Linked DNA regions of Homo sapiens: region 1 is linked to region 2. The links come from fine-mapping of genetic effects on gene expression. A gene starts in region 2. The other region holds a variant in brackets. All regions are shown on one strand. Distances are between the middles of the regions. Region 1 overlaps NACC1 (nucleus accumbens associated 1). Region 2 holds the start of NACC1 (nucleus accumbens associated 1).

The links. PIP is the estimated chance that this variant, and not a neighbour inherited with it, causes the effect.
Region 1: its variant is the best candidate, but not a certain one, in a credible set for the expression of NACC1 in fibroblasts (GTEx, PIP 0.69).

What each region holds. Positions count from the first base shown.
Region 1 is chr19:13,137,848-13,142,847 of GRCh38, reverse strand. NACC1 (nucleus accumbens associated 1) reads right to left here. Exons shown (of 6, transcript NM_052876.4): 6 at 1,701-4,701. The coding sequence ends at 4,442. Among named protein-coding and RNA genes, the nearest start is that of STX10, 10 kb to the left of the region's middle. RefSeq lists an enhancer at 4,970-5,000. The variant C/T (reference allele first, on the strand shown) is at 2,502.
Region 2 is chr19:13,115,137-13,120,645 of GRCh38, reverse strand. It overlaps NACC1 (nucleus accumbens associated 1), which reads right to left and starts at 2,382. Exons shown (of 6, transcript NM_052876.4): 1 at 2,192-2,382. TRMT1 (tRNA methyltransferase 1) reads left to right here and starts at 3,906. Exons shown (of 17, transcript NM_001136035.4): 1 at 3,906-3,993; 2 at 4,215-4,500; 3 at 4,594-4,649; 4 at 4,878-5,020; 5 at 5,180-5,367. The coding sequence starts at 4,247. RefSeq lists enhancers at 335-835, 836-1,337, 2,613-2,762, 3,723-3,912 and silencers at 1,773-1,822, 2,373-2,572.

The DNA.
Region 1 (5,000 bases), 22 kb before region 2:
ACAGGCACCCGCCACCACACCCAGATAATTTTTGTATTTTTAATAGAGACGTGGTTTTGCCATGTTGGCCAGGCTGGTCTTGAACTCCTGATCTCAGGTGATCCACCTGCCTCGGCCTCCCAAAATGCTGGGATTACAGGCATGAGCCACCGTGCCCAGCCCAGTTACTTTAATCTTGTGTTATCTTTGAGTCTATGGGGACCCACGGTGCATCCATGGTTTTTCCTACTTGATAGAACCATTTGTCCTTTCATATTCTTGGGACCCTCTTGTTCACCCAGATATTTCCAATATCGGTTAAATTTTGTGATCTCGTTTTTTTTTTTTTTTTTTTGAGACTAAGTTTTGCTCGTCACCTAGGCTGGAGTGCAATGGTGCGATCTTGGCTCACTGCAACCTCCGCCTTCCAGGTTCAAGCAATTCTCCTGCCTCAGCCTCCTGGGTAGCTGAGATTACAGGCGCACTCCACCACGCCCAGCTAACTTTTCTATTTTTAGTAAAGATGGGGTTTTGCCATGTTGACCAGGCTGGTCTCGAACTCCTGACCTCAGGTGATCCATCTGCCTCAGCCTCCCGAAGTGCTGGGATTACAGGCATGAGCCACTGCGCCCTGCCGATCTCTTTTATGTTCTTTTAATGCATGAATGCTCTTCTGAATGCGGCGTGGAGTGTGTGTGTATGGGATGTGTTTCTGGGGCTTGGCATATCAGCCACGGCACAGGCGGGCACCGAGTGAGCCAGTGTTGCTGTAAAATTGACAGAGCCACAGCTCCCTTTTTTTTTTTTATTGAGATGGGATCTGACTCTTGCCCATGCTGGAGTGCAGTGGTGCCATCATAGCTCACTGCAGCCTTGACCTTCCCAGTTGAAGTGATTCTCCTGCCTCAGCCTCCAGAGTAGCTGGGAGTACAGGTGCATGCCACCACACCCAGCTAATTAAAAGTATTTTTTCAGGCTGGGTGTGGTGGTGGCTCATGCCTGTAATCCCAGCACTTTGGGAGACCAGCCTGACCAACATGGAGAAACCCCATCTCTACTAAAAATATAAAATTAGCTGAACCTGGTGGTGCATGCCTGTAATCCCAGCTACACAGGAGGCTGAGGCAGGACAATCATTTGAACCTGGGAGGCGGTGGTTGCAGTGAGCCGAGATCGCGCCATGACACTACAGCCTGGCAACAAGAGCGAAACTCCGACTCAAAAAAAAAAAAGAAAAGAAAATGCTGGGCGCGGTGGCTCACACCTGTAATCCCAGCACTTGGGGAGGCCAAGGCGGGTGGATCACCTGAGGTCAGGAGTTCGAGCCCAGCCTGACCAACATGGTGAAACCCTGTCTCTACTAAAAATACAAAAATTAGCCGGGCATGGTGGTGGGTGCCTGCAATCCCCACTATTTGGGGGGGCTAAGGCAGAATGGCTTGAACCCAGGAAGCAGAGGTTGCAGTGAGCCGAGATCGCGCCACTCTAGCCTGGGCGACAGAGTGAAATTCCATCTCAAAAAAAAAAAAAGAAAAAAAAATTGTGTGTGTGTGTGTGTGTGTAGGACCAGCTCATATGTTGCGTTATCTGTATCTGTTGGGGTAACTTGCATGCGTGTTAGAATCGGAGGCTGTCAGTTTGCAGTCAGCAACCTGGGTCTGCTGGGCACAATGCAGGTGTGTGTTCCTCCCTGGGCCCCCAAGTAACGAGCATGCGGCAAGGCTGTTACAAAGGCGTTTAGTTTATTCTCATCAGTATCACTGATATTCTCATGGTTCACATTTGCCAACGCCGCTCCTCTCCTTACAGTAGTTAAATGTGCAATCTCACTTGGGGGCCCAGGGAGGGGTGGGGGCTCGGCCCAGGGTGGGGAGGGCGTTGGCACTTCACGTGGACAGGGTGGGCAGCCTGTCCTGCGTGAAAGAGGTGTGGGTTGAGTGGGCGGCCAGGGAAGGGGAGTTGGCAGGGGAGGGCCCCACAGTCTTTTTTCTCTGGTGGTTGGTGATTCTCCATTCAGATTCCTTCCTGGCTGCCCAGGGTGGGGGAACCATGCAGCTCAGGGCAGGGGAGGAAGAGAAGGAAAAAGCAGCAGGCCGCCCAGGGGTAGGGGTGGAGGGTGAATGGCAGGGCAAGGGGGGTACAGGGGTGGCTCCTGGGGTAAGGCACAACCCTGTCTTTGGCTCTCCTGGTGAGGAGTTTCCTCCCCTGCACCCCCTGCCCGACCCTTCTCCCCACCCCCCCACCCCCCGGACCCACACACAGTCCTGGGAGCCAGGGGGCACCTCCTGGGGTCCCTGAAACAAGTGGGCTCTGCCACCCAAGCCAATGCCACAGGGGCTCGAGGAGGGACACCCGAGGAAAAGGCAGAGAGGGGCAGGCAGGGGCCTACCCAGGACAAGGGGGTGGGGGTGAGAAGACCCCAGGCCCAGGAGCTGGCCCCCCCACCCCAACTAAGGCCTGGAAGTGGGGGAGCACCTTCCTTTCAGGGGTCTGGCTGGAGCCCCGGTCTGCCCCTCGGCCTC[C/T]GTCAGGCCCAGCCGCTTGCCAAGTGACCAGGGCATTGTGCTTTGGGGTAAACGCTGGGGTGGGGTGGCAGGCCAGGAGGCGGGGGGAGAGGAGGGGTGACTAAGGTGCTTGTGCTTTAGCTGGGGGTGTCAATATCCCCCACTCAGGCCGGCTGGGGGCTAAGGTTTCAGGCCCCGGCCAGGAAGACAGTGCCAAGACCCCAGCCAGACCCTGGCACTCATGACTGACCCCCGCAACAAGCAGATGTTAAGAGGGACCCCCAGTGGGCCGGCGGGGCTGCTGGTCCCATCGGGGGGATGGTCTCCAAATCAGATTACAAGGGTCCAGTAGGGGCTGGCCCCCACCCCATCTCCTAAAATCCCCCTGCCCCTGGAGAGACCCCTGGGAGCAGTGGGTAGGTGGGGGTTGGGGAGGCAGATGAGAGGCAGGGAGGACGAGGGCCAGAAACACAAACAAGGATGTGGATGTGGATGGTGAAATGACACCCTGCATAGGGGGATGGGGAGTTAAAAAAGAAAAAAAACTGCCTTCACATGAAAATCTAAAACAACAACAAAAAACCACCCACTCTGGGCGAGAACAAAAAGAGAGGAATGGTAAAAGAGAAAATTCTGCAAACAACTGCTAACAATGGAAGTGGACCCGGCCCTGCCCTGCCCTGCCCAGCCCCCAGGAGCTGGGCCCAGCCAACCAGCCAAGGCCTGGGACACCCTTAAACTATAGCCCTGTTGGGGAAGGTGAACAGGGGAGGGGGACCCACAGGACCCACAGGAGCCTAGGCAGCAGCTGGGACTGGAGTCCTACCATGGAAACACACACACACACTCCACACATACACACCCACACACACACATTCAGCCTGCCCCCCAGCCCCCCAACACCGCCCTGCCTTCCAAGGCCCCCCACCCCTGGGGACCGAGGGGGACAATAGACACAGCCCCATTGGTTTGAAAAATAAAAGGAATCTTATACTTCAATATTTCATTCGCTAAAAAAAGGTTTTAAAAATTATGTACAGGGGGGTGGGGGCCAGGAGCCCTGCTGTGGGGTGGGGTGGGTGTGGGGAGATGGAGGGAGGGGCAACAGCCCCCCAGTCTGCTCCCCTGGGTTCCAACCCAGGTCCTACTGCCTCTTGTATCTTCATTTGTTTGAAAGCAAAACTTCTGCACACACACACGCACACACTCTGCCAGCCCTGGAAACCTCTCATTCTATCCTCCGAGACCCTCGGTCTGCCCCCAGGAGACCCCCCCTCCTTTAGGACCTGCCTCTCTGAGGCCCCAGAGGACCAAAGGGAGCAACAGAGGCGGAAGAGGAGAAAGGGCACCAGGCACGCCACTGCCGGCCACCTGAGGTCGGTTGTGCAATTTCTCGGAGCCTGTTTCCCCAGCTATAAAATGGGTAGTCCCCACGGCCTCGCCTACCCCAGCCCCCAGGCGCAGGGATAGACGAGGGTGACAGGAAGGCGCTTTTGGAGACGTGGAAGCACTGGGAGGTGGTGGGAGGGGTCCTGAGAACCCCTGGGGCCCCCCTCAAGTCCCAAGGGGCTGCAGTGAGGGGCGGAGGCTGAAGGCTTCCGCGAGGTGGCCTAGGGCCTGGGGAGGGGCCTTCCCAAGACCCCCAGGCCAGCCCCCTCCCCTGGTGGGCCTGGTGAGTGTGGAGATGACGGCTAGGGGTTAGGTTGGGGAGCCAGAACTCCCCCACTGCACGAGTGTGTGTTAAAGAAGGCAACACGGACCTCACGCCACCTGCCCTGCGGTCCTCTCCCGGCCCAGCTCTCGGTGGGGAAAGGGGGTAGGACAGGAGGGGCAGAGGGCCGGGAACATGCAGCACCCACCGCGGGTCCTGGGGAGGGACAGACAGTAGCTCATGACCAAGATGGCAGGTGTGTGTGTGTGTTGGGAGGGGAAGTGTGTGGCCCCGCGGGAGGCTGGGCGGGTTACTGCAGGGCTTCAGCCGAGGGACCCGCCTCGCCCTCGTGGCTGGCGGTCTCGAAGCCATGCTCCACACCCATCATGTCCGGCTCGATCTTGCCCGTTTCACTGATGAAGGTGGTGTAGGCGTCATCCTCAGCCTTGAGCACCTTGACCTTGGGCATCCAGCTCTTGCGCACGACGCGGCGGGCGTTGGTGCACATGTCGGCCGCGATGGCATTCATCTCGCTCTCCTTGAAGTTGGGGGCGAAGTTCTGGCAGTAGTCTGTGGGGCAGGGTGGGTGCGGCCTTGGCACGGGGGCCAGGTGACTCCCACAAGGCCTACTCACCAGCTCCCCTACAGCATCTGCGACTCCCTCTCAAAGGGGAAACGAGTGAGGCCACGCGGCCAGGACACCACACTACGTGCACCCAACCCTACACCGGACTGAGTTCAGCCATGTGTGGGGATGTGTTGGTTTTGATGGGATGGCCCCGTGTTCTTGAAAAATTCGGATCATTTGCCAGAATTTAGTAACGGGGAGTGGTCACTTGAAAATCTAGATGCCCCCCATGACGAGTGGC
Region 2 (5,509 bases):
CCAGGAAGGATGGTTCAGTCTCTTTGCGGGACTGCTGGCCCAGTTCCTACTCCTCCTAGAACCAAGTGGCTAGCCAGACAGGCAAGAAGGGCAGGGCCCAGGTTGGAGGGTGTCCTGGGAACTATAGGGAGACTGGGGAGAATTAGGGTGACAACCCATCATTAAACCCAGAACTGGCTGACACCACTTGACCCAGCAGTTTGTGGCTCCTGCCTCAGGTGCTGAAGATCCCAAATCAAAGTCCCAAGGACACCCTGGTAACAGCCTTGCAATTAGCCCAGAAAGGAACAAAAGCTGCTGCCATCCGACTGGGGGCCAAAGTGGGGCAAAAACAGTCTAGGCAAGCAAAGTCAAGTCCAGCCCTGGTGGTGCCAGGCCTCCTCAGCTTCCCACGGTCAGCCCACAGTTCCATGACTCCTGACCTCTTGGCTCCCAGGAGGGAAATGGGGAAGAAGGGGTGACCAGGCCTCCGAGAAAGATACCTCCACTGTTCCATTCCCCGGGGACACCATGGAAACTCAGTCTGTCCCAAAGGGGATTGACCCATCCCCCGGGGTGAGCAGAAGGGAAGGCCTGGACGGAGGAGAACGCCCGCCAGGGAATCCAGAACGAGGAGCTCCTTCAGTCACCCTCCTGGAAGGCCACTTGAGTGACTATGGGTTTGGGCTGAGGGTCAGACAATCCCAGTTCAGCCACTGTCTGCTCATGTGATCTGAGACAAGCCACACCACCCCGAGCCTCAGCTTCCTCGTCTGGACCCCAGAGAAGGCCTAAGTTGAACTGGTGGTGGTGAGCCATCAATGAGCTCATCCGACCAGCGAGCTCGGCACAGGGCCTGGCCCAGGACGAGTGTCCCAGAGGTAGATCCCTGGGCCAGGGTGTGAGTGCCTGATTTGATCCCCTTAACTCTTCTCTGTGCCCTGCCTTCACCCCGTCGGGAGCCTCCAAACCACCATCAACAGAGTTTTACATGCTCATTCCCTCTAATTCTTCACCCCCAGGGAGATGGCACACAGAACTCAGGCTCAAGGAGTTGGTGCCTGGGAGGCCATGGTACTAATATATACGATGGTTGCTGTGAGGTCCCATCCACTAGGCTTGAACCACCAGCTTCTGGCCACAAAAGGTAGAGAAAGAATGCAGGATCCTAAAATACCCAGGTAACGTCTGCTGGGCTGCCTCCCTGTAGATATATAAGGTGGGGGTGGGCAAGGGCCACCTTGTGATAAACAAGATGCCTAAGCTAGGTGTTCCAGACTGTCTCCAGCTGCCCACACAAACACCCACTGGCCAGTGCCTTTGAACAGTTGGCAGAGGCTTGCCCAAGGGGTAGGGTCAGGACTCTAGAGGCTTCAGGGATGAGGTGTGAGAAAGACGGAACCCCTTAACACTTGAGTTGGGGGCGGTGGGGGGCGCATCTTAGTATATACCTTCTGGTCACACCAGCTTTTCCTGACCTGCCCCCACATCCCCCCTAGCCTAGCCCAAAAGGCTCTGCTCTCTCGACTCCCAAAACTCCTACAGCAGTCCCTCACCTTACCTGATCGCCCCCACATCTAGCCTCCCCCTCCCCACATCTGAGTCCTGACCTCATGTGACCCCCGGAAAACATCTCTGGGATCTCCTATCCGCCCCCACACGAAGTAACTCCGCCCACACCCGCCGTGCCCCACTTCCTGGGCTTCTCCTCAGCCGCCCCCAGGCCTGTAACTTGACCCACCCACCTCCTCCAGCGCCCAGGCGGTACCTGCAGGCCCGGCCCCTCCCCGCCCCCCTCCGGCCGCGCCGCTCTCCTCTCCTCCCCCACTCGGCCTGGCCGGAGCCCGACTCCTCCTCCCCCTCCCCCTCCCCCTCCGGCATCCACGAGAACCTCCTCACTTTTCCGCCTCGGACCCTCCAACTTCCCCGGATCCCCGGTACCTGCCCCGGCCCGACCTGGCCCCCTCCCTCGCTGGGAGACGGGGGAGCGGTCCAGGTACGATCCTGCCGCCCCCAAGCCCTGAAGCTCGGGCTGGACGCTCAAGGCCGCCCGCGGTAGCTGGGCCTCCACACACTCGCCTGCCCGGGCACAGTGCAGGCTGCGGGCCCGGCTCCTCCTCGGTCCGAGAAAGCACCCAGGCCCTCCCCACTCAGCCCTCGGGCCGCCCCGGCTGGAGGAGGCCGGAACCGGGCCTGAGGCGGGCCGCCTCACCTGCGCCGTGGCCGCGCTCCGGGGGGTCCCGGCGGGCTCCGCAGCGGCGGCTGGGGCCGGGCCTGGGCCCGGGGCGCGCCCCGCTGCGCCGGGGCCTCGGCCTCCGCCTCCGCGGCCTCCGCGGCCTCCGCCTCAGCAGCAGCGGCAGCCGCGGCGGCCATTCATTGTGGGCCAGGCCGCCCCAGCCGAGCGCCGAGCGAGCGCAAGCCGCGCTGCCGCCGCAGCCAGGCCAGGGAGGAGCGGCCCCGGCCCCGCCCGCGCACCGCCCTCGGGCCCCGCCCTCCAGGCGAGGCCAGCCGAGCTCCGAGCGCGCCCCTTCTAACCGGCTCCGTCTCCTCTCTATGCCCCTGGGGGATCCTCGCCAGTACGTCGGCTCAGCTCGATGGTTCGAATCCTGGCCCCGCCACCTTCTAGTCCCGCGACCTTGGGCAAGTCGCTCTACCTTTCCGAACTTTAGTTTCCTGTAAAACAAAAACAATAATGACTGCTGTTTATTGTGGCAGGCACTGCGTTACATTCTTTATGGGAATTAGCTCGTTTAAACTACACAGTAACATTTTTTAGTGAGAACTGCTACAGACACACTATAGAAAATAAAGGCAGCTGGGCGCGGTGTCTCACGCCTGTAATCCCAGCACTTTGGGAGACCGAGGTGGGTGGATCGCCTGAGGTCAGGAGTTCGAAACCAGCCTGGCCAATATGGTGAAACTCTGTCTCTACTAAAAATACAAAAATTAGCCGGGCGTGATGGCATGCGCTTGTAATCCCAGCTACTCGGGAGACTGAGGCAGAAGAATCGCTTGCACCCGGGAGGCGGTGGTTGCAGTGAGCCGAGATCATGCCACTGCACTCCAGCCTGGGCGAGACTCCGTCTCAAAAAAAAAAAAAAAAGAAAGAAAGAAAGAAAAGGAGGCACAGAGAAATGAAGAAAGCTGGTCAAGATCATCACACAGCAAGGAAGTGATGGTAGGTGCCAGGATTTAAACACAGGCTCAAAAGCGACAATAAGACCTAAGACTTTTATGATGCTTACCGGATGCTAGGTTCTGTTAGCATTTTACCTGCACTAACTCGTTTACTTCTCACTACAACCCAGTAACAAATGGTAAAAAAAAGTTCTGCCCATTTTGCAAAAGCGGTAACTTAAGTTCAGAGTTAACAAGTCGCAGGGCGAGCTGAGACTGGAACCCAGGTAGCCGGGACCACTTCGCTGTCCTGCCTTCATACACTGGTTAGAACTTTACCGAGCGCTTACAATGTTAGAGTGGTTCTTTGCACACTTTCCAGGAATCTGTCATTTAATCTTTGCTCTATCTGAGAAACCACGATTCTCATTTAATAGGTAAGAAAAGTGAAGCCGCGGGAGTAACCTGCCCAGAGCATGTGATGGGACTGAGATTCAAACCCGGTAAATCCAACTCCAGAGCCTGAGTCATTCCTGCAGGGTGCTCTGAAATAATGTGTATATAGCACCCAGAACACAGAAGAGGACCAATAAGTGTTGGGTTTCTCCGCTTACCGCCCCTTTTCTGAGCCACAACTTCCTCATCTGTGAAATGGGACTAGGGACGTGTCCTCTCCCAGGGGATCCACTGTGATTAACACCCCCGGAACAGCACGATCAGCGCGCTTCCTTTATGGCTTTCATTTTGATCCCGGCCGCCCACCGTACGTTTCCTCATTGACTGGCCAACCACTATCATGTGATTCGCCCACCCACTGTGCCAACATGGCGGCGCCCAGGTCCTAATTCGGGAAACGTGCACCTTGACTAATTCGGTTTTCTGTGGCTACGAGAGCAGGTGAGGACGGGCTAGGCAGCGCGGGGAGGGATTCGGACTCGGGGCGGGCCTGCACGAGGGCATCGGCTCCACAGGGACCAGTCATCCCCAAAACGAGGGGATATCAGCTTACCGAGGCCGCAGGTTTTCCTAGTCCCTACCTCATAGATATGTAGGACATCCCCGGGCCCGGAATGCGGCTCTCTGACCCTCTCTGTGCCCTCCCCCGCCCCCCGAACCAGGCTTGGCGGGCGGAGGCGCCAGCGGATGTCTCATGCAAGGATCGTCTCTGTGGCTAAGCCTCACTTTCCGCTCCGCCCGGGTGCTCTCTAGAGCCCGGTTTTTCGAGTGGCAGTCTCCAGGGCTGCCGAATACAGCAGCGATGGAGAACGGCACCGGGCCCTACGGAGAAGAACGTCCACGTGAAGTCCAGGAGACGACAGTCACCGAGGGGGCTGCCAAAATCGCCTTTCCCAGTGCCAACGAGGTCTTTTATAACCCGGTGCAGGAATTCAATCGGGACCTGACGTGAGCAGGGGTCAGACGTTAGCCTGGCATCGGCTAGTGGGTCAGTGTGGATGGCGGGGGCGGGGTATGAGCTAGTCCTCTGTCTCCCACCAGATGTGCTGTGATCACCGAGTTTGCTCGCATTCAGCTTGGGGCCAAAGGAATCCAGAGTGAGTGGAGGTCCAGGCTTCTGGTGGGCGGGGGTCACACAAGTTTATCTCCCTGCCTGGGCTCTTCTGCCGCCCAAATCCAGAGGGGCTTCAGCCACATAGCAGGCCCTGGGTTCTGCTCCTTCAGCCTTTCCGCAGGGATTTCAGGGACGATATTTTGGAGATTAAGGGGAGGTTTCTCAGAGGGGACCTTGTTATTCTCTGACTTGTGCCTCTGGGTGGCTGCAGTCAAGGTTCCAGGAGAGAAGGACACGCAAAAAGTGGTCGTGGACTTGTCAGAGCAAGAGGAGGAAAAGGTTGAACTGAAAGAGAGTGAAAACCTGGCCTCAGGAGACCAACCTCGCACAGCGGCCGTGGGGGAGATCTGTGAGGTGGGGCCTGAGCATAGGAGCTGGCAGCCCTGGAATTTAGCGGGAGACAGAGGGCTCCTGGAGGGGGAGAGCTATAGGAGGTGGGTGGTGGGGGCTCCTTGGGGCCCAGAAGAGGATGGAGGTGGAGATGTGAGGGAGGTTTTCTGCTTACTCCAACAGGAAGGCCTGCATGTGCTGGAAGGCCTGGCAGCTTCAGGCCTACGTTCCATTCGATTTGCCCTAGAGGTGCCTGGGCTCAGATCTGTGGTTGCAAACGATGCCTCCACCCGGGCTGTGGATCTCATACGCCGGAATGTCCAGCTCAATGACGTGGCCCACCTGGTACAGCCGAGCCAAGCAGATGCCCGGTAGGTTCTGGGCATCACAGCCTAGCTCTGGGACAAGCCTGCCTGGGGTCAAATTCTGGCTCTGTCACATTCTCACTCTGTGACCTTGAGTGAGTGACTTAGCCTCTTTGAGCCCCAGTTTCCTTGTCTGTCAACTGAGAAA